2 separate regions of the Homo sapiens genome follow, and region 2 is linked to region 1. The links come from fine-mapping of genetic effects on gene expression. Tissue or cell type: whole blood. Region 1 holds a variant in brackets; the other region holds the start of a gene. All regions are shown on one strand. Distances are between the middles of the regions.

Region 1 (8,107 bases):
ACACCAGTGGACAAGAATTTCTATAGCTCACACCCTTGTTAATGGCAGTCATTGTCATACTTAAGTTTTGCCCATCTAGTGGATATAAAACTGTCCCATTATACTGTTAAATTGCATTACCGCATTGTTAATGATTAAAACATCTTCCATATACTTTTGGTCATCTAGTCTTTCTCCTCTGGAAAAAAAAATGCCTTTTGATGCTTTTCTGTTAGGTCGTTGGTCTATTCTTATAGCCACTAAGAGTTTTATTAGAAGATATTAGGAGATATTTGGTTTTTTTATCTTTTGTTAATATATGGCTGATATATTTTTCTAATTTGTGGCTTGTATTTTACTTGTTGTGATTTCTTATAATTAATGGTAATTCTTCATTTTAATGAGTCAAAGTTATTAAATTTGTATTTTTTAGTGGGTACTTTTTGTGTCTTGTTGAAGAAATCTTTTCCTAGCCCCATGACTATAAAGAAACTCTCCTTGTTTTCTTCTAAAATTGGGTAATCTACCTTTTCAAATTTAAGAATTTAATCAATCTGAAATTGATTTGTGGAAATTGTGTATGATAAGGTTCTAGTTTCATATTCTTTGAAATGAATAATCCACTCAACCAGCATCATATATTGAGTGGTCCCAACTTTCCCATTGATCTGCCTTCTCAATCACAGCATTTCCATATGTGTATGGGTCTATTTGTATTTTCTCATTTCTATTATCAGTATCCTTTTTGTTTGCAAACCAATACCACACTGGCATTGCCATGGCTTTTTAAAAAGTCTTGCTGTCTCCTGGGGAAATCGCACACTATTTTTATCTCAGGGATCTCTTAACTAATCTTGGGCTTTTCTTTTCTTTCATCAATATCAGAATCGGATTCTCAAGTTTCTTTAAAAAATTCTATGAAATTCAAATTAAAATTGCATGTATGCTATTTGGTGATATTGACTTCCTTGTAATAGCAAGTCTTCCTTGAAAGTGGCAAAATTTAAACTTATTTATGTCTCTTTTAATGTCTCAATAATATTGAAAAGTTTCCTCCATGAACTCTTTATATTTTTGGTACATATGTTTTTACACATCTTATATTTTGTGTTAATATAATAAATGGTGTTTATTTTAAAATGCTATTTCCAACTCTTTATTCCAAGTATACAGTTTCTGTATATTAATTTTTTTCAGCACTTGGCTATATTGTCTTACTAATTCTATGGATTCCTTTGAGTTTTTCTATCTGTCAATTAAAAAGATTTTAGTTGTTTTCCCAAACCTCAGAATTTTTATTTCTTTTTGTCTTATTTGACTGTCTTAGAATTCCATGCTGAATGGGAGTGCTGTTCTTGTTTCTGATTTTTTTCCCAGTTCTATTTTTTGTGTATTTCAATAGGTTTTTGGGGAATAGGTGGTGTTTGGTTACATGAATAAGTTCTTTAGTGGTGATTACTGAGATTTTGGTGCACCCATCACTGAGGCAGTGTACACTGTATCCAATGTGTATTTATCCCTCACTCACTCCCACCCACTCCCTGAATATATATATATATATATATATACACATATATACATCTATATACATATATACATGTGTGTGTATACATATATATCACAATTTGTTTATCTGCTCATTGATTGATGGGGCATTTGGGCTGGTTTCATATTTTTGCAATTGCAAATTGTGCTGCTGTAAACATGCGTGTGCAAGTATCTTTTCGGTATAATGACTTCTTTTCCTCTAGGTAAATATCCAGTCATGGCATTGCTGGATCAAATGAGTTCTACTTTTAGTTCTTTAAAGAACCTCCACACTGTTTTTCATAGTAGTTGTACTAGTTTACATTTCTACCAGCAGTGTAAAAATGCTCCCTTTTCACCACATCCATGGCAACATCTATTATTTTATAATTTTTTTTATTATGGCCAGTCTTGCAGGAGTAAGGTGGTATTGCATTGTGGATTTGATTTGCATTTCCATGATCATTAGGGATGTTGATGATTTTTTCATACTTTTTTTTGCCACTTGTATATCTTCTTTTGAGAATTATCTCCTTCATGTCCTTAGCCCACTTTTTGATGGGATTGTTTGTTTTCTTCTTGCTGATTTGTTTGAGTTCCTTGTAGGTTCTGGGTATTAATCCTTTGTCAGGTGTATAGATTGTGAAGATTTTCTCCCATTCTGCAGGTTGTCTGTTTACTCTACTGATTTTTTCCATTGCTGTGCAGAAGCTTTTTAGTTTAATTAAGTCCCATCTATTTATCTTTGTTTATGTTACATTTGCTTTTGGTTTCTTGGTCATGAAGTCTTTGCCTAAGCCAACGTCTAGAAGGGCTTTTCTGATTTTATCTTCTAGAATTTTTGTGGTTTCAGATCTTAGATTTAAGACTTTGATCCATCTTGAGTTGATTTTTGTATACAGTTATACAACTAGATAAACTAGATAAAAATCTGGTTTCATTCTCCCACATGTGGCTAGCCAATTATCCCAGCACCATTTGTTGAACAGGGTGTTTTTTTCCCCACTTTATGTTTTTGTTTGCTTTATCAAGATCAGTTGACTGTAAGTATATGGCTTTATTTCTGGGTTCTCTATTCTGTTCCATTGTTCTATGTGCCTATTTTTATGCCGGTACCATGCTGTTTTGGTGACTGTGGCCTTATAGTATAGTTTGAAGTTGGATAATGTAATGCCTCCAGATTTGTTCTTTTTGCTTAGTCTTGCTTTTGCTATGCAGGCTCTTTTTTGGTTCCATATGAATTTTAGGATTGTCTTTTTTTTCTAGTTCTGTGAAGAATGATGGTGATATTTGGATGGAAATTGCATTGAATTTGTAGATTGCTTTTGGCAGTATGATCATTTTCACAATATTGATTCTACCCTTCCATTAGCATGGGATGTGTTTCCATTCGTTTGTGTCATCTATGATTTCTTTCAGCGGTGTTTTTTAGTTTTACTTGTAGCAGTCTTTCACTCCTTGGTTGGGTATATTCCTAAGTTTTTTTGTTTTGTTTTGTTTTGTTTTGTTTTGTTTTGTTTGCAGCTATTGTAAAAAAGTTGAGATCTGGATTTTATTCTCAGCTTGGTCACTGTTGGTGTATAGCAGAGCTACTGATTTATGTATATTAATTTTGTGTCCTGAAACTTTGCTGAATTCATTGATCAGTTCTAGGAGCTTTTTGGACGAGTCTTCAGGGTTTTCTAGCTATATGATCGTATCATCAGCAAACAGTAACCGTTTGACTTCCTCTTTACTGATTTGGATGTATTTCTTTCTCTTTTGTCTGATTGCTCTGGCTAGAACTTCCAGTAGTACTATGTTGAATAGAAGTGGTGAAAGTGGGCATCCTTGTCTTGTTCCAGTTCTCAGGGGGAATGTTTTCAACTTTTTCCCATTCAGTATAATGTTGGCTGTGGGTTTGTCATAGATGGCTTTTCTTAGGTTAAGGTATGTCCCTTCTATGCCAATTTTGCTGAAAGTTTTAATCACAGTTGGATGCCGGATTTTGTCAAATGCTTTTTCTGAGTCTATTGAGACAATCATGTGATTTTTGTTTTTAATTCTGTTTATGTGGTGTATCACATTTATTGACTTGCATATGTCATATGTTAAACCATCCCTGAATCCCTGGTATGAAACCCTCTTGATCATGGTGGATTATCTGATTATCTTTTTGATATGTTGTTGGATTCGGTTAGCTAGTATTTTGTTAAGGGCTTTTGCATGTATGTTCATCAGGGATACTGATCTGTAGTTTTCTTTTTTGTAATGAC[C/A]TTTCCTAGTTTTGATATTAGGATGATACTGGCTTAATAGCATGATTTGGGTGGGGGCGGATACCCTCTTTCTCTGTCTTGTGGAATAGTGTCAATAGGATTGGTACCAATTCTTCTTAGAATGTCTGGTAGAATTCATCTGTGAATCCATCTGGTCCTGAACTTTTCTTTGTTGACAGTTTTTTTAATACCATCTCAATCTCGCTGCTTATTTTTCTGTTCAGAGTTTCTATTTCTTCCTGGTTGAATCTAAGATAGTTGCATATTTCCAGGAATTTATCCATCTCCTCTAGGTTTTCTAGTTTATGTGCATAAAGGTGTTCACAGCAGCCTTGAATGATCTTTTGCATTTCTGTGGTATTGATTGTAATGTCTCCTGTTTTGTTTCTAATTGAGCTTATTTGGATCTTCGCTCTTCTTTTCTTGGTTAATCTCTCTAACTGTCTATCAATTTTGTTGATCCTTTTAAAGAACCAGCTTTTTGTTTCATTTATCTTTGTTTTTGTTTTGTTTCAATTTCATTTAGTTCTGCTCTGATCTTGGTTATTTCTTTTCATCTGCTGGGTTGGGGCTTGATTTGTTCTTGTTTCTCCAGTTCCTTGAGGTATAAGCTTAGGTTGTCTCTTTGTATTCTCAGATTTTTTCATATAGGCAATTAAGGCTATCAACTTTCCTCTTAGCACCACCTTTGCTCTAACCCAGAGGTTTTGATAAGTTGTGTCACTATTATTGTTCAGTTCAAAGAATTTTTTAATTTCCATCTTGATTTCATGGGTGACCCAATGAACATTTTGTGGCCTATCATATGGTCTATCTCAGAGAATGTTAAGTATGCTGATGAATAGAATGTATATTCTGCAATTGTTGGGTAGAATGTTCTGTAAATATCTGTTAAGTCCATTTGTTCTAAGGTATAGTTTAAATCTATTGTTTGTTGATTTTCCATCTTGATGACCTGTCTAGTGCTGTTAGTGGAGTATTAAAGTGCCCCAGTATTATTGTGTTGCTGTCTATCTAATTTCTTAGGTGTACTAGTAATTGTCTTATAAATTTGGGAGCTCCAATGTTAGGTGCATATATATTTAGGAATGTGATAAATATCACATATTGGACTAGTCCTTTTATCATTATATAATGTCCCTCTTTATCTTTTTTAACCACTGTTGCTTTAAAGTTTGTTTTGTCTGATATAAGAGTAGCTACTTCTGCTCACTTTTGGAGTCCATCTGCATCTTTTTCCACCCCTTTAGCTTAAGTTTATGTGAGTCCTTATGTGTTAGGTGAGTCTCCTGAAGACAGCAGATACTTGGTTGGTGAACTCTTATTCCTTCTGCCATTCTGTTTATTTTAAGTGGAGCATTTAGGCCATTTGTATTCAATGTTAGTATCGAGATGGGTGGTACTATTCTATTCATCATGCTATTTGTTGCCTGGATATCTTTTTTCCCCCATTATGTTTTTGTTTTATAGGTCCTGTGAAATTCATGCTTTAAGGAGGTTCTATTTTTGTGTACTTCAAGGATTTGTTTCAAGTTTTAGAGCTCCTTTTAGCAGTTCTTGTAGTGCTGGCTTGGTAGTGGCAAACTCTCTCAGCATTTGTTTGTTTGAAAAATATGGTATCTTTCCTTCACTTATGAAGCTTAGTTTTGCTAGACACAAAATTCTTGACTGATCATTATTTTGTTTAAGAAGGCTAAAGATGTGGCCCCAATCCCTTCTAGTTTGTAGGGTTTCTGCTGAGAAATCTGCTGTTAAACTGATAGATTTTCCTTTATAGGTTACCTGATGCTTTTCCCTCACAGCTCCTAAGATTCTTTCCTTCATCTTGACTTTAGATAACCTGATGAGTATGTGCCTAGGTAATGATCTTTTTGCAATAGATTTATCAGTGTTCTTTGAGCTTCTTGTATTTGGATGACTAGATTGCTAGCAAGGCTGGGGAAGTTTTCTTCAGGATGACAAGATCTCTAGCAAGGCTGGGGAAGTTTTTCTTCAATTATTCCTCAAATATGGTTTCCAAACTTTTATATTTCTCTTCTTCCTCAGAAACACCACTTATTCTTAGGTTTGGTCATTTAACATAATCCCAAACTCCTTGGAGGCTTTGTTCATTTTTTTAATCCTTTTTTATTTGTCTTTGTTAGATTGAGCTAATTTGAAAGCCTTGTCTTCAAACTCTGAAGTTCTTTCTTCTACTTATTCAATTCTATCACTGAGATTTTCCAGTGTATTTTGCATTTCTCTGAGTCCTTCATTTCCAGATATTGTGATTGCTTTCTTCTGCTTCTTTTTTTTTTTTTTTTTTTTTTTTTGAGATTGAGTTTTGCTCTTGTTGCCCAGGCTGGAGTGCAATGGCATGATCTTGACTAACTGCAACCTCTGCCTCAAGGATTCAAACAATTCTCCTGCCTCAGCCTCCCAAGAAGCTGGGATTACCATGTGCCACCACGCCCAACTAATTTTGTATTTTTAGTAGATACGAGGTTTGACCATGTTGGCCAGGCTGGTCTCGAACTCCTGATCTCAGGTGATCCAACTGCCTAATTTTCCCAAAGTGCTGGGATTACAGGTGTGAGCCACTGTGCCTGGCCTGTTTTTTATTTATGCTATCTATTTCACTGAAAAATTTTTCCTTCATATCTTGTATCATTTTTTTTATTTCATTAAGTTGGACTTCACCTTTCTCTGGTGCCTGCTTGATTAACTTAATAATTGACCTTCTGAATTCTTTTTCTGGTAATTCAGAGATTTCTTCTTGGTTTTGATCCATTGCTGTGAGCTAATGTGATCTTTGGGGGATGTTAAGGAACCTTATTTTGTCATATTGCCAGAATTGTTTTTCTGGCTCCTTCTCTTTTGTGTAGACAAATCTGGGGCTCAAGGGCTGCTGTTCAGATTCTTTTGTCCCATGGGGTGCTCCCTTGATGTGGTGCTCTCCCCCTTCCCCTAGGGATGTGGCTTTCTGAGAGCCAAACTGCAGTGATTGCTATTTCTCTTCTGGACTCAGCCACCCAGAGAAGCTGCTGGGCTCCAGGCTAGAAGTGGTGAGTGTCTGCTCAGAGTCCTGTGATGTGAACCATCTTTGGGTCTCTCAGCCGTAGGTACAAGCACCTGCTCCAGTGGAGATGGCAGGGGAGTGAAGTGGACTCTCTGAGGGTCCTTGGCTGCAGTTTTGTTTATTTCACTAGTTTTGTGTTCACTGGCCTCCAGCCAGGAGATGGTACTTTCAGGAGAGCATCAGCTGCAGTAGTATAGAGAGGATCAGGCAGTGGGTGAGGCTATAGAGCTCCCAAGAGATTATGTCCTTTGTCTTTGGCTACCAGGGTAGGCAGAGAAAAACCATCAGGTGAGTGCAAGGTTAGGTGTGTCTGAGCTCAGGCTTTCCTTGGGCAGTGCTTCCTCTGGCTGTTGTGGGGGATCAAAGTGTGGTTCCCCAGCTGATGGAGTTGTTTCCACAGGGATTATGGCTGCCTCTGCTGCCTCATGCAGGTTGCCAGGGAAGTGGGGAAAAGCAGGCAGTCACAGACCTCACCCAGCTCCCACGCAGCCCAAATGATTGGTCTCCCTCCCACCATGTCCCGTCAACAGCACCAAGTTTATTTCCAGGCAGCAGGTGAGCAAGGCTGAGAACTTGCCCCAGGCTACCCACCTCCCAGCTGAGAAAGCAAGCAGGGTTTCAGGTCTTGCCTCTCTGCCTGCCATGGCCTCTGTGCTGTGTCTGTACTTCCAATTCACCCCTCCCCCAGGTTCTGTCCAGGAAACTTTGCCTTCTGTCAAAATGTTTACAAAGTTAAGCTGGAAGTTTTATTCTCCCCGTGGTCTTTTCCTAGGTCCTCTGGCAGCCCTCCCCAAGGACCCCTGACAGGGAGAGCTCACAGGGCTTTCCTTGCTGTTGTTTCTAACCCTGTATTTTGCTCAGCTCTCTAAATTTGTCTCAGCTCCAGGTAAGGTCAAATCCTTCTCCCATGATATGGACCTTCAGGCTCCCCACTGAGGGTGTGTATTCCGACACCCATGATCCCACTTTCACACTTTGGGCACTCATAGTTTTTCAGCTGTCTCCAGGGGCCTGCAGCAGCACTCCGCTTCCTTCAAAGGATCTGTGAATTCTCTCAGCTTTCCTGGTATGTTCTTGTGGTAGTTCTTGGAGCAAAAGTTCATGATGTGAGTCTCCACACGCTGCTCTGTCAATCCAAGTGGGAGCTGCAAGTTAGTCCTGCCTCCTGTCTGCCATTTTTTTCCTCCCCTTGTTTCTAATTTTAAAGGGAGCACTTTTACTATTTTGCCTCAAAGGTTGATGTTTGATGTAGATTTTCTGTTGAAGATTTTTATCAGATTATGGAAAT
Region 2 (8,107 bases), 230 kb after region 1:
AAAACAACAAAAAACTTAAGGGAAGGAATGTAATACATCCACAGCTGAACATCTTACAAGACTTAACCAAACGACCAGTACAAATGATGCCCTAGTAGACACACACACATACCTTATATAGCTTGGTAAACAGGACTCAGTGGCCAGCTTAGTTAATTCCTCATTTTACCACGAGGAAAAAATGCTCTCTAAAAAGCATTTGCTAGATAAATACTTGCTTACAAGTCAAAATTAGTGCATCTTAACCATTTTGCACACAAATTCAAAGATCTTTTTCTCCCAACTCTGACCTGCTGTCAATCAAAGGGGCTGGGGTAAGTCAAAGTTGGATGAAGTTATAAGAAGCCACTATTTCCCACTTTACCGCCCAGGCACACACAAACATTTGCTGAGTCATTGATAATAGTGCAAGAATTCAGATCCCATGGCATGAATTATGGATGGAGTATCAGCCTTTCCCTTTGAGTTTCCTGGCATTTGATGGTCCATATCACAATAAAAACATACTTCTGAGTCTGTGAATGTCTTGGGTGTCTTCTCTCATTCTCTCTCTCTCTGGGTGTGTGTGCATGTATGTGTCTGTCTGTCTCTGTGTCACTCTCTTAATAATAGTCTTTTAACTCCTTCAAAAAGAGTTTTGATCATAAAGCCTCAATCTAACCTGATAATGCACAGAAACTTTTTCTTTCCTGAGATTTCATATGTTCTATATATTTCAATATGCTTATTTCCTCTTAAGCAACATTAAAATCATCTATTTGGAACTGACTATAGATTTTTTTGAGACTTCGAGGGACTATGAGAATTTTATAGTAAAACCAAATTCTTTCTTTTGACATTTTTAACAACAGAGCAGAATGGTAATATACTTATTATACACAGAGATTGAAAAAAAATCAAGAAAATCTGAAAAAAATAAAGCACCAATTCCCTGGAATTTTCATCTACTCAGCCCTCACTGAACCCTATTAAATTAAAAAAATTATGATTACTTTCATTTTTTAAACAGAAATGGGAATATGGCTCCTACGTGTGACTTCCCTGAGATCTGCGAAAGGCAGTTCCAAGAATACAACCTAGGCCATCTAACTATAACCCAGTACAACAATTTATCCCCTCCATGAATGAGTCTCCCTGCTGCAGGCATGAAGATGGTGGTAGCTTTCAGACTCTCCTGAGGATTCAGAAATTCCCCAACCCTTCTCCCACCTACCTCACTCTGCAAGCTAGGAGAGCTCACCACCAAGCCCACATCCCACCTTAGGTGAGACTCGCACTGCACATCCCTACCCTTCCCCAGCCACCACACCTTTCCAACCATTAGAGGTAGATGTAATTGGGGGTTTAGGTCTTGAAAGGTTTCACTGTGGCTTCCCACATATTTTGGACTTTTAAAATCATCCACAAGGGAAGAAAAAGTTGAGGGCCAAGTTGCCTTTAATACACATGTGGCTATTAAGTTAACTTGGAATGTTCCTTCTTTAAATAGGAACTCTTAGGCCTCTTCTTTTTGAGGAATGCTTGGAAAGGACATTAAATAACAATGACGAAAATTCTTCCTGAGCTTCAGAGGGCACCCCCACCCCTTTGCTGGCCATTCACACTATTGACATGCAACTACACTCTATAACATGTGGCTGGCTTAACGAGGTAATCGTGCACAGATGATATGCTCTATGCTGAAGTTGGAGTGGTTATATTTCTTCTTGGCTATTTTTCAACAGACTGTACTGAAACTTTAAAAATTTGATCAGTTTAAACAGGCTGTTTTCAAATGATAAATCTATAATGCATTGTTTCTAAAGCCGATCTTTGCACCACAAACAGATATGCTTATCTTGAACCCATGCTCTGAAGCATCAACAACTTAAAGGAATCTACTCATTGGTAACACCAATGTCAAATGATGCGGCATTACAGAATACAAAAATGGTATGGCCCTAGAATCACTCTCTTTATATAAAATGGGAACTGGAGGTATTAACAAAAAAGCCACTAAACAACATAGATTCCAAATGAAAGCACAGTGAATTAGTTGGGTCTTTAGTGAAGCTAAGTAGCACTATATTAAGAAATGGAGATATGCTTAGGTTTATTGGCCATATTCAACATCTGCACACACCCAGGGAGAATAAAGCCTATTCTTTCCTTGTCCTGACCTCACTCCCTCAGGCTGCATGTTCCTTGGGTAATGAGAAGTCACAATCACTATTCATAGATGTGTGGGGAGTCACTAAAAATATATTATTCACTGTCAATCTTAGTTTATATCCAGATACAACAGGGTACACTGCTCTTGTAATGGAATCAGACTTCTTATTTTAACAAGACAAACCAAATCCAATCCACATTTGAAGATTATAGGTTTTAATATAAGAAAATGCACTCATTTCTCAAAGACCCTAGTGAAGCTGTGTTTAAATGCTCCTAGGTGAACCCCCTTTGCATCCCAGTGTTCCCACCCTGACACCCAGAGCCCCTACCTACCCAACACAGAATCATTTGCTCTGATAGAACAATGGATCCCTTTTTCTGGAAACATTGATGGCCACTCCTCCCTTGTCCTTGCCTATATAAAACTCCTACATATATTAAGAGAAAACTAAGCAAGAGTTTTGGAAATCTGCCCCAGGAGACTGCATCCTGAGTCACACGCGTCTTTGTTCTCTTTCTTGTCCCAAAACCGTTACCTCAAGTGACAAATGATCAAATCTCAAATATAGAATTCAGGGTTTTACAGGTAGGCATCTTGAGGATTTCAAATGGTTAAAAGCAACTCACTCCTTTTCTACTCTTTGGAGAGTTTCAAGAGCCTATAGCCTCTAAAACGCAAATCATTGCTAAGGGTTGGGGGGGAGAAACCTTTTCGAATTTTTTAGGAATTCCTGCTGTTTGCCTCTTCAGCTACCTACTTCCTAAAAAGGATGTATGTCAGTGGACAGAACAGGGCAAACTTATTCGAAAAAGAAATAAGAAATAATTGCCAGTGTGTTTATAAATGATATGAATCAGGAGTGGTGCGAAGAGGATAGGGAAAAAAAAATTCTATTTGGTGCTGGAAATACTGCGCTTTTTTTTTTCCTTTTTTTTTTTTTCTGTGAGCTGGAGTGTGCCAGCTTTTTCAGACGGAGGAATGCTGAGTGTCAAGGGGTCAGGATCAATCCGGTGTGAGTTGATGAGGCAGGAAGGTGGGGAGGAATGCGAGGAATGTCCCTGTTTGTGTAGGACTCCATTCAGCTCATTGGCGAGCCGCGGCCGCCCGGAGCGTATAAAAGCCTCGGGCCGCCCGCCCCAAACTCACACAACAACTCTTCCCCGCTGAGAGGAGACAGCCAGTGCGACTCCACCCTCCAGCTCGACGGCAGCCGCCCCGGCCGACAGCCCCGAGACGACAGCCCGGCGCGTCCCGGTCCCCACCTCCGACCACCGCCAGCGCTCCAGGCCCCGCCGCTCCCCGCTCGCCGCCACCGCGCCCTCCGCTCCGCCCGCAGTGCCAACCATGACCGCCGCCAGTATGGGCCCCGTCCGCGTCGCCTTCGTGGTCCTCCTCGCCCTCTGCAGCCGGGTAAGCGCCGGGAGCCCCCGCTGCGGCCGGCGGCTGCCAGGGAGGGACTCGGGGCCGGCCGGGGAGGGCGTGCGCGCCGACCGAGCGCCGCTGACCGCCCTGTCCTCCCTGCAGCCGGCCGTCGGCCAGAACTGCAGCGGGCCGTGCCGGTGCCCGGACGAGCCGGCGCCGCGCTGCCCGGCGGGCGTGAGCCTCGTGCTGGACGGCTGCGGCTGCTGCCGCGTCTGCGCCAAGCAGCTGGGCGAGCTGTGCACCGAGCGCGACCCATGCGACCCGCACAAGGGCCTATTCTGTCACTTCGGCTCCCCGGCCAACCGCAAGATCGGCGTGTGCACCGGTAAGACCCGCAGCCCCCACCGCTAGGTGTCCGGCCGCCTCCTCCCTCACGCCCACCCGCCCGCTGGAAAAAGAAACCGCTCGGACTGAGTTTCTTTCTCCAGCTGCTGCCAGCCCGCCCCCTGCAGCCCAGATCCCAACTCGCATCCCTGACGCTCTGGATGTGAGAGTGCCCCAATGCCTGACCTCTGCATCCCCCACCCCTCTCTTCCCTTCCTCTTCTCCAGCCAAAGATGGTGCTCCCTGCATCTTCGGTGGTACGGTGTACCGCAGCGGAGAGTCCTTCCAGAGCAGCTGCAAGTACCAGTGCACGTGCCTGGACGGGGCGGTGGGCTGCATGCCCCTGTGCAGCATGGACGTTCGTCTGCCCAGCCCTGACTGCCCCTTCCCGAGGAGGGTCAAGCTGCCCGGGAAATGCTGCGAGGAGTGGGTGTGTGACGAGCCCAAGGACCAAACCGTGGTTGGGCCTGCCCTCGCGGGTGAGTCGAGTCTTCCTCTAAGTCAGGGTCGTGATTCTCTCCCAGGGAGGGAGTCCTAACTGTGCCGACCGAACGGGGGAAATACCTTATCCAGGCGTTTTACATGGTGTTTGTGTGCTCTGCTCTCGCAGCTTACCGACTGGAAGACACGTTTGGCCCAGACCCAACTATGATTAGAGCCAACTGCCTGGTCCAGACCACAGAGTGGAGCGCCTGTTCCAAGACCTGTGGGATGGGCATCTCCACCCGGGTTACCAATGACAACGCCTCCTGCAGGCTAGAGAAGCAGAGCCGCCTGTGCATGGTCAGGCCTTGCGAAGCTGACCTGGAAGAGAACATTAAGGTACATGTTCTGCTCCTATTAACTATTTTTCACAGGAAAAACAGTGGATAGGACCCAACTTAGGGCTCTTGCCACGCTTGTTAGTATAAGCCCGTTATCTCCAAAACTATCTAACCATTGAGCTGTTTTGCTGGAATGAGAGCTTGTGTAATAGCAACCACCAGTTTTCCACTACGAAATCTTCCACAGGGTTAGTTAATTCAAGACATTCCAAGAGAGGCTCTGGCTATTTTTGGACATAGCAAATGAGACTCAAACTTCCTCCCCTCAAAATATAAACAGAAGTCAGACAACAGAAGACTAAAACACAGAGGGTTGAAGAAAGCCACTCCTCTTGTAGAGTCGCTGATTTTTTTTTTTCCTCTCTCTTTTCCCTTGTCTTCCTTAGAAGGGCAAAAAGTGCATCCGTACTCCCAAAATCTCCAAGCCTATCAAGTTTGAGCTTTCTGGCTGCACCAGCATGAAGACATACCGAGCTAAATTCTGTGGAGTATGTACCGACGGCCGATGCTGCACCCCCCACAGAACCACCACCCTGCCGGTGGAGTTCAAGTGCCCTGACGGCGAGGTCATGAAGAAGAACATGATGTTCATCAAGACCTGTGCCTGCCATTACAACTGTCCCGGAGACAATGACATCTTTGAATCGCTGTACTACAGGAAGATGTACGGAGACATGGCATGAAGCCAGAGAGTGAGAGACATTAACTCATTAGACTGGAACTTGAACTGATTCACATCTCATTTTTCCGTAAAAATGATTTCAGTAGCACAAGTTATTTAAATCTGTTTTTCTAACTGGGGGAAAAGATTCCCACCCAATTCAAAACATTGTGCCATGTCAAACAAATAGTCTATCAACCCCAGACACTGGTTTGAAGAATGTTAAGACTTGACAGTGGAACTACATTAGTACACAGCACCAGAATGTATATTAAGGTGTGGCTTTAGGAGCAGTGGGAGGGTACCAGCAGAAAGGTTAGTATCATCAGATAGCATCTTATACGAGTAATATGCCTGCTATTTGAAGTGTAATTGAGAAGGAAAATTTTAGCGTGCTCACTGACCTGCCTGTAGCCCCAGTGACAGCTAGGATGTGCATTCTCCAGCCATCAAGAGACTGAGTCAAGTTGTTCCTTAAGTCAGAACAGCAGACTCAGCTCTGACATTCTGATTCGAATGACACTGTTCAGGAATCGGAATCCTGTCGATTAGACTGGACAGCTTGTGGCAAGTGAATTTGCCTGTAACAAGCCAGATTTTTTAAAATTTATATTGTAAATATTGTGTGTGTGTGTGTGTGTGTATATATATATATATGTACAGTTATCTAAGTTAATTTAAAGTTGTTTGTGCCTTTTTATTTTTGTTTTTAATGCTTTGATATTTCAATGTTAGCCTCAATTTCTGAACACCATAGGTAGAATGTAAAGCTTGTCTGATCGTTCAAAGCATGAAATGGATACTTATATGGAAATTCTGCTCAGATAGAATGACAGTCCGTCAAAACAGATTGTTTGCAAAGGGGAGGCATCAGTGTCCTTGGCAGGCTGATTTCTAGGTAGGAAATGTGGTAGCCTCACTTTTAATGAACAAATGGCCTTTATTAAAAACTGAGTGACTCTATATAGCTGATCAGTTTTTTCACCTGGAAGCATTTGTTTCTACTTTGATATGACTGTTTTTCGGACAGTTTATTTGTTGAGAGTGTGACCAAAAGTTACATGTTTGCACCTTTCTAGTTGAAAATAAAGTGTATATTTTTTCTATAAAGGGCTTGGTTATTCATTTATCCTTCTAAACATTTCTGAGTTTTCTTGAGCATAAATAGGAAGTTCTTATTAATCATAAGATAATTCACCAATAATTTTCTAAATATCTTTAATTATTCTATACATTAATAAATTGATTATTCCATAGAATTTTTATGTAAACATACTTCACACTGAATCAAGTATCACAGACTTGCAGGCATACACACCACATTGACTATACAGCCATTTTTTTTGTTATCTTCACAGAACTTTATAGACACTTTAAATTCAATTCTCTCTAGATTACTTCAGTCTCCATTAACCCTGTTGTATTACACTTGGTCCTTTTGGCATTTGTACCTCTCTGGCCGTTATAGGTTAGTTTCCAACCCTTCACATCACAAACTAGTCTATGTGCCTTGCACGTGGAAAATGTTTACATTTTTTAAAAATTTTATGCTCTAGGTCTGTTTCTGAACTTCATTACCTTACTGTTAAATCTGAAAATTATGAAATGAAATCCTCATTTAAATGGAGCTATTTCATAAGTCTTGTTTTGTATAATTCCGTTTTTGGTTGCCATGATAACCAATGACAAACAGATGGCATAAATAGAAAAGGGAGGATGAGCAAATCTTCCATTCATTAACATTAATAGAAATTTGTTTTGAAAGTAATTCCTCCATTTGCCCAAGTCTTTAGCTTTATCAGACTTCCAGATTAATGCATCCTACCTTACCAAGTGGTTTATACATGAGAAAATGGAATTGTTCAAGAAGCCTCATGTGGAAACAATATTGTACCTACCCAGGTAGGTTTTTACTAAAGAGTGAACCAAAGTGAATGGTAAACAAAAGCAATACACCAAAGGCAACTAGAATCTTCTCCACATGAGGATAGCTGAGGATTCTAGGGGAAAAAAAAATTGCAGACAGACTAACTTTTCCCAAGGTAATTAGCAACGTTGTAGTGCCAATGTCATTTGGACAGACAAAAATACACCTGAAAATAAAGACTAGCTCTACAAACAACTGTCCACACCACAAACCAAAGGGAAAACTTCCCGTGTTCAGAATGTGAAAATTTATGGTCAAAACTCTGGGCTTTAAGGATACACCCACATCTGTATATAGCAGTGCTGCCAGGAGCAGCACCCCACCTCCCCAAATAAATGCGCATGTACACATACACATAGGCACACACACAGAGTACACTGTTAGTTCACACTTCCTTTCTGTCAATTAATTCCTAACTGCAAAGATGAAGGGCCATGCATGATAAACGAGACTGACTACTGAATTAGAGCATTCTGGAAATATAGAAGCAGCAGGAAAAGCATAGATTTCACATTTTCCAAATACCCACATTAAAGAAAAAAAAAAGAGTCACTAGATTGCAAAACAAAAATCCCACAGGCAATGTTTCTACAAAAATTAGATGGCAATGCACACTTTCACCCCCCAAATATCGGAGGTAGGGGGTGCCAAATCATCAACCACCGTAAGATCTGCACCGTGTCAGCACATGTGTGAGAAAAGCAGAGAAACAACAAGGTATCTGATGCTTCTGAGAACACGAGAGCTCTCAAACAGCCAGCAGGTAGTCACTAGATATATAGAAGGCCAGGCTG

Evidence for each region. PIP is the estimated chance that this variant, and not a neighbour inherited with it, causes the effect.
Region 2: CCN2 starts here. The variant in region 1 is fine-mapped to the expression of CCN2 in whole blood (INTERVAL, PIP 0.91).

The regions. Positions count from the first base shown.
Region 1 is chr6:132,179,437-132,187,543 of GRCh38, reverse strand. No RefSeq gene overlaps it. Among named protein-coding and RNA genes, the nearest start is that of LINC01013, 51 kb to the right of the region's middle. The variant C/A (reference allele first, on the strand shown) is at 3,762.
Region 2 is chr6:131,946,565-131,954,671 of GRCh38, reverse strand. CCN2 (cellular communication network factor 2) reads left to right here and starts at 3,300. Exons shown (of 5, transcript NM_001901.4): 1 at 3,300-3,565; 2 at 3,680-3,902; 3 at 4,129-4,380; 4 at 4,512-4,723; 5 at 5,112-6,496. The coding sequence starts at 3,500. The coding sequence ends at 5,408. The region is part of intron 2 of CCN2-AS1 (CCN2 antisense RNA 1); the gene reads right to left.